Homo sapiens: one gene and its partner. The protein of the gene in region 2 purifies or fractionates together with the protein of the main gene of each other region. This does not show direct contact. Each region holds a gene or a part of one and is shown on either strand. Other genes may lie near its edges.

Evidence for each region.
Region 1: the proteins of ANKH (region 2) and FAM234B purify together in Homo sapiens (affinity purification with mass spectrometry; 2 studies listed by BioGRID and IntAct, with this or other methods). This does not show direct contact.

Annotation. Positions count from the first base shown.
Region 1 is NC_000012.12:13,046,325-13,055,628, reverse strand, and holds part of FAM234B (protein FAM234B), read right to left. Parts: intron 79-9,304; coding exon 1-78.
Region 2 is NC_000005.10:14,704,300-14,707,778, reverse strand, and holds the end of ANKH (mineralization regulator ANKH), read left to right. Parts: 3' UTR 1-2,979; downstream 2,980-3,479. UniProt on the Homo sapiens protein: Transports adenosine triphosphate (ATP) and possibly other nucleoside triphosphates (NTPs) from cytosol to the extracellular space. Mainly regulates their levels locally in peripheral tissues while playing a minor systemic role.

The DNA.
Region 1 (9,304 bases), on a different chromosome or scaffold from region 2:
GCACCAGATCGTCTTCGCTCTCATCACTGTCAGCCTGGGTAAGTGGATCATACTCCCCTAGGTCTGGGCTCTTCTTCCCTGAAAATACAGAAAAACAGAGAGTCAAGGGGAACTGGGGAGAAGACACCCTCACCAAATATATGGCAACTGTAAATACCCAGAAGAACACGGAAAACTAAAACAAAAAAATCCAGGTTTACATCAAGTTTGAACCTTGGTGGCTATCTGTAAAACAGAAGCCAGTGAAGCAGGGGTTAGGAATGGAAGGAAAAACAAAAGCACAGTGCTCCAGGATCACTGCCTGCATGAGTTTAAGACAATGGAAAAGGAGGCAGAAGTTAGCAAATTTAAAATGCCTTTAGTTTAAAAAGAAAGCTCTCTTAATGTGTTTGAATCTCACTCAAGAAAAAGATCATGGCTCCACATCAACTCTCCATGTGCCTAATGTGCATATTGCCTCAGATCTTCTTAGATCTGTGACATCCTAATCTTTCCTGGTAAACTTTTAGAACAATTCTTCTCCATACGCTGCTTCTCACAGCCCAATATCTGTGGCTTCCCAACTGTTTCTATGGAAACAACTTAGAAAGTTGAACACTGAATGTTCATCTGAAGATGTATTGAAATCTCACTTCTAAGAACCATCCTGTGATTTGAATGCCCTTTCAGTCTATCTTTTAGTAAACAGTGTTTACCCCAAAAACTGCTCTTCTGAGCAAGTATTCTGGGAGGGGTGGTGATCTAGCCAGTACACAGAGGTAGGGGACTTGTCTTGAAGGTGCTTTGCATGGCAAGCACTTTGTTTTTACTTAGCTTGCAGTGTTGATTTGGGATAGCTGAGAGAGAAATTACAGAAGAGCCTAGGTACACCTCCTCCCAAGCCACCCACCCCTTGGCCTCACTGCCAATGACTGAATGATTTTATGCCTTTATTTCATGTTACCACCAAGTAACAACCAAGAAAATGTTTCTTTTGGGGAGACTTTATGCAGTAATCTATCACTAATGTAAACTCTATCATTAAATCTTTTGTTCAGAAGAAATATAAAAAAGACCACAAAACCCAGCTAATTAAAAAGGGGAAAAGAATAATTATTAATGCTAGTGTCTACCTCTGGGTCACTATGGCCTTGGTGATGTCATTTCATACATTATATCTCAGTTTGTTCAATTAATAAAATGAAAGAATAAAACACTATATGGAGACCAGATTGTTGCGGGAAGGCAAGGACCCCAAATGGAGGGACCAGCTGGAACCACGGCAGAAGAACATAAATTGTGAAGATTTCATGGACACTTATCAGTTCCCAAAATTAATACTTTTATAATTTCTTATGCCTGTCTTTACTGCAATCTCTAACCACAAATTGTAAGATTTCATGGACATTTATCACTTCCCTATTAATACTCTTATAATTTCTTATGCCTGTCTTTACTTTAATCTCTTAATCCTGTTATCTTCATAAGCTGAGAATGTACGTCACCTCAGGACCACTATTGTACAAATTGATTGTAAAACGTGTGTTTGAACAATATGAAATCAGTGCACCTTGAAAAAGAACAGAATAACAGCGATTTTCAGGGAACAAGGGAAGATAACCATAAGGTCTGACTGCCTGCGGGGTCGGGTAGAATAGAGCCATATTTTTCTTCTTGCAGAGAGCCTATAAACGGATGTGCAAGTAGGGAAGATATCACTGAATTATTTTCCCAGCAAGGAATACCCTGGGGAAGGAATGCATTCCTGGGGGGAGGTCTACAAATGGTCGCTCTGGGAGTGTCTGTCTTATGTGGTTGAGATAAGGACTGAAATATGCCCTGGTCTCCTGCAGGTACCCTCAGGCTTACTAGGATTGGGAAATTCCAGCCTGGTAAATTTTGGTCAGACCGGTTCTCTGCTCTCCAACCCTGTTTTCTGTTAAGATGTTTATCAAGACAATACGTGCACAGCAGGACACAGACCCTCATCAGTAATTCTAACTTTGCCTTTGCCTTGTGATCTTTATTGCCCTTTGAAGCACGTGATCTTTGTGACCTACTCCCTGTTCCTACACCCCCTCCCCTTTTAAAATCCCTAATAAAAACTTGCTGGTTTTGTGGCTCAGGGGACATCACGGACCTACCGATATGTGATGTTACCCCCAGAGGCCCAGCTATAAAATTCCTCTCTTTGTACTCTTTCTCTTTATTTCTCAGACCGGCCAACACTTAAGGAAAATAGAAAGAACCTACGTTGAAATATTGGGGGCTGGTTCCCCCAATACCAGATGTTGGAAGTAAAACCTTTGATGTTTAAAGTTAGTATTTGGTACATTAAAAAAATCAATAAATTTTAGATTTTTTAAAATGAACATTCCACAGAATTATAACATTAAGTACTTTCAAAAAAAATCCAAAGAAAATACTGAATAATCTGTCATCCTAATAACTAGAAATTATTTCTATTTATTTTTATTTTCAAAACTATACATTTTGCCCAATAAATATTAGACTTGATTTTTAAGGGCACAAATTACAAGAAAATAAATCAATTATTAGAAACTTAATTCAAAATAGTACTTTCAGAATATGCCATGGGGTCAGTACAGGTTCCAGATAATCTCCTACAATTTGTATTTCTACTCCATGAACCAAATTATTTGGTTAATTAGGGCACACCATTCCCTAACCATCCCAGATAACTCTACACATAATAATTTGCATACAGAGCCATGGGTTGTTAGAATAATATTAACTCTAATGCTTTTTAAAGTGATTGTTTGTTCTTGTTTTGTTTTTTAGCTAAAATACACCTGACATGATAAACAAAATGTGATATGTACGTACCATGGAATATTATTCAGCTCTAAAAAGGAAGGAACTTCTGACACTTGCTACAAAATGGATGAACCTTGAGGACATTACGCTAAATGAAATGAGCCACACACAAAAAGGCAATACTGTGTAATTCCACTTATGTGAGTTATCTAGAGTAGTCACACTCACAGAAACAGAAAGTAGAATGGTTGTTGCCTAGGTCTGGAGGTAGAAGGAAAAGTTGTTACTGAGTAAGTATAGAGTTTCAGTTTTGCAAGATGAAAAAGTACTAGAGATTGGGTGCATATACAGTTAATACTGAACTGTATACTTAACATAGTTAAGATGGTAAATTTTATGGTGTATGTATTTTTTGACAATTTAAAATGTTTAAATATATATATATATATCTGAAAAACAGGAAAGCACACAGAGTTCTCAACTCTAGAGTTACTTGAGAAAGCACAGCAAGAGACCTTAAAGATCACATAATCTATCCCCACCCCTATCCCAAACTTACAACTAGCTACTTACAAAGACCTATCAACCAGTTACTTAGCAAACACCTGAATGTAACCTGTATTAGGGAATCCACTGGCCTCCAATCTAGAAACCAATTCTTTACACTGATTCAAGAATTTTTTTCTGGGAAGTTGCCAATTATCTGTCCTAGTTTTAATTTCTGGGATCCCTCTCTCACATGTAAGTCCTTCAAACACTCAAAGGTATCAATCATAAGAGACATATGATATGGTATTTAAGAGCTCAAGTCTTCACAATCAAACATCAAGCCAAATCCTGGCTATATCTCTTATGAACTATGTAATCTCAAATTTCTTAACTTTATTGAGCATCAATTTCCCTATTTATGAAATGGAATAATTATTCTTTTTAGCTCATATGATTGTGATGAGAATCAAATAAGATAATATATGTCTGCTTCTTAGTGCCTGGCTTATAGCCACACAATAAATTTTAGCTTCTATTATTATCATTACCATCACTGGTGCTAGTATTGTATCTCCCAGTGCCCTCCCCCACTCTTCTCAGCTCCAACTTAAACACCTCCACCTCTTTCAACCCATTACTTAAAGAAGCATTGTTTCAGGTGTCCTCAACATCCTGGTCATTCTCCTCTGGACACAATGTGATATGTCTGTGCTTTTTAAAATATGGTTCTTGGAACTAGATACAATCCCAGGTACAGTCTGACCAGAGAAAGGGAGGGCAGAGCTATTTCCTACCTACTCCAGATAGCAAACAACAATTCAATTTCTATAACGTAAGATCTTGAGAGCTTTCTTGGCATTCACATCACCTACTGATTCAATTAAAACTTCCAAGCATTTTGAACACATGCTTAAGCCACCCTATAATTGTGCAATTGGATTTTTAGCACCAAGTGAAAAATTTAGCATCGACATCAAATTCAATCTTGCTAGTCAGTCTCCACCTTGCAACAAACATATCAGGCTAAAAACAGCACCTTTGTCAAAGTGAAATCATTAATAAAACACTTCCCAGCAAAACAGTTTAAAGGAAATTCATTTTTATCATGCTATGTACTATCACAGGCAGGGAGGAAGAGAAGCATATGCTACAGGAATTTATAAAATCTGTAAGAAATTTATAAAAACAATTTGAAGCATTCTTTGAGAAAAAAGCTGCTGTCAGATTGGTCTGTTTAGCAAGATTACATGCTTCTAGTTAATGATGGCAAAAGTGGGCATTTCTGTCACACTGTCTTCCCTAAAACCAGGAAAACAAATACAGAAAAATAAAAATAGAACACAAAATAGGAAACAGCCACATTCCCAAACCACAATTTATGAACTAAATGCACTGAAACTTGTACTCAATTGAGAAAGCTCAGTAAGAGTAGGCAAATACATCTTGCAGATATATATTGCACATATATTGCAGATCTTCAGCAATGAGCAGAGTTCACAGAATTAATAATCATGACAACAATAAGATGATGACGATGATGACAACTGGAAGTGTATTGAGTGCCTACTGTCCCAGGCACTGATCCAAGCATTTTGCATGTGTTAATTCATTTAATCCTCACATCAATCTTATATGGTAGATATTATTATTATTATTATTATCCCCCATTTTATCAACAAGAAAAATAAAATTAAAGAGGTAAAATGACTAAGATCACACAACTAGCCAAAAGAAAAGCCAGGATTCAAACCCAGGCATCTGACTGCAGAGTCCATTTGTTGTTCTAACCAACAAGTTATACTACCTCCCTTGTTCCACAAATATAGCCAAACCAGTAATTGCTTGCTTGGAAAGACAAAGTCTGGGGTCACAGAAGCACCAATGAGCCCCATTCAACACCACAGAATCAAATCCAAGTAGGACCGAATGAGGAAAAGTACAAGCTGACATCTTCACAAAAAGCACACTGTCAGGACGGCAGGTTAGAAAAGTAACTGGGCATAATCACTCTGACTGGGCCCAGTCAGGATACAGAAGCCAAACAATAGTTCAAAGAGGACAAGTTTAACATAAAAAAAATTACTAAGCAATGACAGGAGAGTAAACATAAAGATGAGAAGAGAACTCTAAAAGGTCCCCTAGGACTGAGAGACAATATCCAAGGCAGGACAAACTTGATATTTAAAAGGGCTCAGACCCACTTTCACAAATCAGTCAACAAAGGTGAATTTGGAGTTCAGATGCAATAAATTGATAACTGGCAAAACAAAGTCAATGAAGGAAATGCCAAACCAGCAGCCTACAGTCCTGTGCAAAGCCTCCTCCTAGCCAGGATAGAGACATCCACACAGGAAGAGTGCTGGTGGGGAGCCAGCTGACTTAACAGGCCTGGATTACATTCTTGCTTCCAACGGCCCTAGATCACCCCTTTGGCAATAGCCAGGCTGTCAAACAACCGCCCCATTTAAATATAAGTAATAATCAGAAAGGAGCCATGTTTAGTACTCATTCCACAAGATACCACAAAGCTCTACAAATATTCAAGAAAGAAGTAACAACGAAACATAACAAACAATTAGCTGAAAAACAAATGCTGGACAAATCACACCACAAGATGGAAGAAATAATGAACATATACTTCCCCATGGAGTCTGAGAAATTTAGGAAAATCGTCTTCTCTGAAATAAGCACTCAGGAAAACAATGGAAAAAATAACAAACCAGTTTTAGAAAAGAAATCCTTATTGGAATCAGCTAAAGGAACAGATATTGCTGAAAACAGAGTCAGAGACATAAAAAGAATAGACTAGTGAAAATCAAGCAAAATGTAATGGAAATAACTACAGCTGGCAGTTCTGAACACTTATCCTACACTCTTCCAAGCCCTTTTAATGTCTTATCTCAGACCAGGGGTGCTGGCTCACGCCTGTAATCCCAGCACTTTGGGAGGCCAAGGCGAGCAGATCACTTGAGGTCAGGACTTCAAGACCAGCCCGGCCAACGTGGCGAGACCCCGTCTCTACTGAAAATACAAAAATTTGCCACGTGTGGTGGCAGGCGCCTGTAACCCCAGCTACTCAGGAGGCTGAGGCATTAAAATTGCTTGAACCTGGGAGGCGGAGGTTAGAGTGAGTCGAGACCATGCCACTGCACTCCAGCCTGGGCGACAGAACAAGACTTTGTCTCAAAAAAAAATTCTTATCTCAGTAAATCTTCATAACAACTATGTGAGGTAGACACATTACTGTCTTCACTTTCAAGATGAGGAAGCTGAGGCTTGGAAGTTTAAGTAATTAGCGGATGTGGTTTGGCTCTGTGTCCCCACCCAAATCTCAACTTGAATTGTACTTCCATAATTCCCATGTGTTGTGGGAGGGACCCAGTGGGAGATAACTGAATCATGGGGGCAGTTTCTTCCGTACTGTTCTCATGGTAGTGAATAAGTCTCACGAGATCTGATGGTTTTACAAGGGGAACCCTGTTTCGCTTGGTTCTCATTCTCTCTTGCCGCCACCATGTAAGATGTGCCTTTTACCTTCCACCATGATTGTGAGGCCTCCCTAGGCACACAGAACTGTAAGACCATTAAACCTCTTTCTTTTATAAATTGCCTCGTCTCAAGTATGTCTTTATCAGCAGTGTGAAAACAGACTAATACATTGGCCCACAGATAAACAGCAAGTGATAGGTAACAATTCAAAACCAGTCTGGCTTCAAAGTCTGTACGGGCTACATATGATCCCGTGGAAAAAAAATCAAGGCTTTAAAAAGACTAGAAACAACGTGATAGATACTGACAACAAAGGTGAGCCAATATATGCATGACCGAAGAGGATAACAGAAAAGAGGATAACAGAAAAGAGGATAACAGAAAACAGAAAAGAACCAAAAGCAGTATTTTAAAGAGTTGCCAAAAAAAACTTCCTACAATAAAGACCTAAAACTGCAGAATAATGAGTACACAGAGTCCCAAGAAAAACTGATTCAGAAGAATCAATACTGAAATATATCCTAGTAAAGGCACAGGACTTCAAGGACAAAGAAGGAATCCTATAAGCAGCCAGGCCAAAGGAAAAAGAATCAAGTCACTAATGACAGGAACAAAAATCAGGCAAAGATTTCTCCATAGTAACATACACTATTAAAAGATAGCGGAGCAATATCTAAAAAGTCCTCAGAGAAAGAACATGCAATTTGATGTCCAAGCATTCTGACCCAGCCATGACATCACCGAAATATAAAGACAAGCACACAAGCGCTCTGAGTTATCATATTCCTATGCTTTCTTTACATCACAGAAGACTAGGGGCCAGTTCTTGGCCAGCCTTTTGAGAGGAATAAATACTTTTATACTAATTTTTTTTTCAGATACTGCAAAAACAAACCTCCGCTTAAGGATTACAGACTGCAAGTTTTGATTAGAGAAGTCTTTAATAATATTTTTTCTATCTATTTACAGAAAGACAATAAGAGAGCGTGAAGTAAAAGACGTCCACCAACTTGCCTTAAAAGAAGTCCACCAACTTGCCTTAAAAGAAGTCCACCAACTTGCCTTAAGTCCTACTCAGGCTGAGGAGCCAGGCGTCAAATCCAGCTTCCAAGCTTAGGGCACTTAGCACTCACTCGCTTCCTTGCTACTTTCAGCCACCACCCAAATTTTTAATGAATGAAAGGTTTTCAAAGAATAAGGGAGAGGGCACTGATTTCATAACAAATCATTATAAATGCGCTTTCCACAGCTATTGCTTTTCCTCTTAGGAAGACTGAAGATGCTGCTTAAATATAATAGGATTTCCAAAATGGTAGAGAGGAAAACACAAATAGGAAAGTGATGCAACTATACCATACCCAAACGTTTTCAGGAAATATACTAAAACATACACTATTCTATAACATATACTATACTATAGTATACACTATACTGTGCATATACTATACAATACACTCTACTGCAACTAAAGGTAAATAATTCATATCATGGGTTAGTTTACCCAAGGGCATATAAAGACTAAGTTACACAAACAAAATAAATCATAAAAAATCATTTTGCTCTGATATTCCCTCCAGTGTTTGACCTTCAAACTTTAAAATGGCCTAAGAAAAAAAATATATATATACTTAGGAGATAAGCTGCCCTACAGGCTTTATGAATGTCATATTGGCCTTCTGCTACTAATTAACCTCATTTTATGCATGTGAGCCAAACATCTTTCCTTCTTGAGCTTAGCGAAACTGCTCTTTCATAACAAGACTGCTGAGATCTGTCAATAGCTCACTATTACATCAAGCCTTCCTTCAGGTATCACATTCATAAATGAGCACACTGCTGATGACAACAGCTAACACTTACTGACTAATTAACATATGTCAGAGGTTACTAGACCTCCTAAGTACATCCATCTCCTTTACTATTTCAGATAACCCTAGGAGGTAAATATGTAGTAGAATGTGTGGCATAGAGTGAATGTTCCATAATAATGTTATTGTTACAGATGAGGAAACTAAAGCTTAAAGAGATTAAGTAACTAATTAGGTAAAGACTGGATTTGAACCCGAGCCTGTCTCATGCTCTCAGCCACCACTCCAACCTGACTTCCTCACACATGAAAACAGTGGGGATGTTGGGGCCAGACGCAGTGGCTCATGCCTGTAATCCCAGCACTTTGGGAGGCCAAGGCAGGCGATCACCTGAGGTCGGGAGTTCCAGACCAGCCTGACCAACATGGAGAAACCCTGTCTCTACTAAAAATACAAAATTAGCTGGGCATTGTGGTGCATGCCTGTAATCCCAGCTACTCGGGAGGTTGAGGCAGGAGAATTGCTTGAACCCAGGAGGCGGAGGTTGCGGTGAGCCGAGATCACACAATTGCACTCCAGCCTGGGCAAGAAGAGCAAAACTCCGTCTCAAAAAAACAAACAAACAAACAAAAAAACAAACAAAGAAAACAGTGGGGATGTTAACTACAGGAACATAACACAGTAGCCCAAACAGGACAGCAGTCTCAGGACCCCAATTACAGGGGAGCCAAAAAGAGCTATATAAAAACAACTTGTACCTA
Region 2 (3,479 bases):
CTGAAACATTTAATATTGGCTTAGGATGTATCAGATGGGGCCAAATAAAGCTTCTTTACAATAGTAAAAGCACTTTATACTTCACTCTCTGAGTCTTCCCAATAAATAACCTTGGGAGGTGCAGGGGGTGGGGGGCCCAGGATGGGGAGGCCTGGGAGCTCCCAGGGTAGTGACAGAGTTGGGCTGAGTTCTCCAGACGCCAGGATGCGTCGCAGCGGGGCCAGCTCAGGAGTGCTCACTCCCAGCCCTCTGGATCTCTCTCCTGGTTGGAATAATCATTACATATCGTAACTCTCAAAATTTATTCACTTATATTTTCAGAATAAGAAGTGTGAAATGTTAACAGCTCTCTGCTCTCTTACTTGTTCCCCATTTGGGGATCTTCTGGAGGGAAGGGGCAGGGGGAGAGTAACTTTTCTATATCCTTGGTTTCTAGGAACACATCGATTTGAAGACTCAGTAGCTGACTGGTTTTTTTTTTTCCCCCTTCAAACTGAAGTGCGAGTGTGCGTGTGTTCCACAAAATAGCAAGTATTTATAGTGTTGTAATTACATTTCCTTGAGAAATATTTTCTTGTATTTAAAAATCTTTCTACTTCAGTAACTCCCAGCAGAACAGTGCCCAGGACAGCATGTGCCGGTTAGTACCAGCTTTGCAGGTGAGCTGACTTCTAAACTTAGGACGACGTCTTCATCAATCAAACTAGTGCACAGTCCAGAAAAAGGGGTCCTTTATCTTCTAAGTTCTGCTCCTCACCTTTCTTTGGAACCAAAATTGCAGTGGAGTGTGAGGAAGAGCTTTGAAAGACGTGGAGTGTTGAGATGTCTGCATTGCACATTCAGCCGGTTCAAAGCCAGCAGCTCCTGCCTGCATTCTGTAGACATCGCCCTCACACACAGTCCTCTGATGGCTCTCATATAAAGCACTCAAACCGTAGGAAAGCATGTTTTTGAGCAACGTGTCTGGGATACTCCTCTGTGTGGTTATTTTGAATCTCTATTTCTGTCATTGAAGCAGCAAAAAACATCATGTGACTCATCAACTGATCTAATCACACTTAAAACAGGATGTAGAGAAAAATCTGATGAGAAACGTAAAAGGGCCTGTTGCCTGCCCTTTTAAAGGCAAAATGTCTAAAATCATGCAAATGTTCAAAATGAGAGAAATTGCATTGTGGAATCAAAATAACCCAAACTCCACTCAGAAAAGTCACAAATATATAGTATACTATCTGATCTCAAAAGGGAAAAACGAGATGATAAGACCTTAAGTTTAGACTTTATTTTCTTCTCAAGAGTGGACATTAAATCTATTAACTTGCAACTTTCTGCTGGGAAGAGCATCAAAGGTGGGCCTCCTAAATCATTTTTGAAAAACCTCTGTCAAGTCCAAGTGGTTCCAGGAGAATTATAGCCAGTATCTTTTAAAATATTTCATTTTAGTGATAATGTTTTTCTCTGCTTCATTTGCAATCAACCAGGATCTCTAAAAGACTGCATAAGATATATGCACTTTTATAGGTGGCTGTCAGCTACACATAGATTCAGCAAATTTTTTTTATATAGTACCTGTTTTTAAGTTAGGCTACATAACTTAAAGTGCACTTTACTAACAAGACTTGACATTAGCGTCTACAATATGTATATGTAAACAAAAGCACACAAGAACTAGGCACCCTTTCTCTCTCCAAGAGTTTAAGTGGTTTCCTTAGGTTAAAGAAGGGGACAGACCAGCTAAAAATGGTTGTACCACTCACTGTACAACCTCATGGAAATTCTCACTATAAGATTTAGAGGCAATGTTCCCTAGCTATAAGCCAGGGCAAGAAATGGCGCCTCTGGAGTTGGGGAACATTAGGGGAACATTACAACCGGGTAGATGCTGGTTCCCTGAAGTGTGGGGCCATGAACATGCAGGGACCCACGGTTTGAATGAAACAGCTACTGAAAGCTAAGTTCAAACCACCCTTGCGTAACAAAGGAGTACAGGGTACACATCAACACCAATCACCCAGCACCCCACAGCGATGGTCATGTCACCGTGCAGCAGGTCCCTTACCCCAGGGCTGCCACATCCACAAGCCTTGCAGTGGCAAATACGCTGCTCCTTGGATTTAATGAGATATTTTGGTTGCTTAATGATGTACTGATCAGGGAACTGTCTAAAGCTAGTAGGGCCAAGGAGTTAATCAAAGGGCTTCGGGAAAGTGGACAAGAGCCACACACGTGATTCTGTTCCATGCCGACACTCATTCATTTAAGAAGTGTATTCAAGCTGGAGGCTTCCATATCACTCACGCTTCTTGGCCTCACCTTGCTCATCTGTCCAATGGGAGGCTTGAGCCATTATTGCTAAGGCCCCTTCCTGATCTAACATTCTGTTTATGATCTAGGATTTAGAACGTCGTATGAGATCCTACAATGGAAGAATAAAATCACCTCATTCTTCATTTCAGATCTGAACATTAGCAGTGATCTAGATTTTTTTTTTTTTAAACAAAATTAAGTGTGCTTAGAGTCATTCCTCTACATGGGCTGTGGCTGTCAGCCCATAGGTTTGTCAGTTTCACATCAAAACTGTGGGTATAAACTGTTGAAACCAATCACATTAAAATATTTAGCTGGGCACAGTGGTGTGCATCTGTAGTCCCAGCTACTTGGGAGGCTGAGGCAGGAGGATCGCTTAAGCACAGGAGTTGGAATCCAGCCTGAGCAACAGAGCAAAACCCCGTCTCTAAAATACAAATAAAATATTTGTGTAGTTTTTGATTAAAATTGACTACAGCGGTCAGTATAAAATACATGTCGCTTTTAAGGAAGTGCTCTTTATGTATCTAACAGATGGAAGTTTTTGCATTGGTAAGAGCATTTATATATGCTTTGTTTCAGGGTTTATGGATTTGTATTCATATATTGTCAAATAGGTTTCATACTCTAATTTTACTTTAAGTAAAGCTTAAACACTTGGCATACAACTGAGATTGCTTTTAGTTTCTTGATTTTTTTTTATTCTAACCATGCATCTGTTTACTCACCGCAAAGTTACTTGGTTTCCTAATCCTGATTACAGTTTCCCTTTTAATCAAATTTACCTGAGAGATTAACATTTTGCCCTTTCCCTTGGTTGCTAAAACTTCTAACCACTGGGAAATTTCTCTAAACTCCCTGTCTTACTTAAATATAACCTATTTCTTCAGATTTTATTCTGCATTAAAATTACTTTTACTTCCCAAAACTTCAGTAATGAAAATGCTTCTCTGAACCCTCTCCAACTTCTCTATACACCTTCTCAAATGGGAATGCCAAAATGAAGCAAGTGTTTGGTGAGCCTGAGAAGGACAGAGCCCGACAATCCTCCTGCCCACATCTAAGAGATTCTTACTCTTCTTAGTCTTTATGGGAAAAGCATTACTCTTTTATCACTTTTTTTTTTTTTTTTTTTTTTTTTTGAGACGGAGTCTCCCTCTATTGCCCAGGCT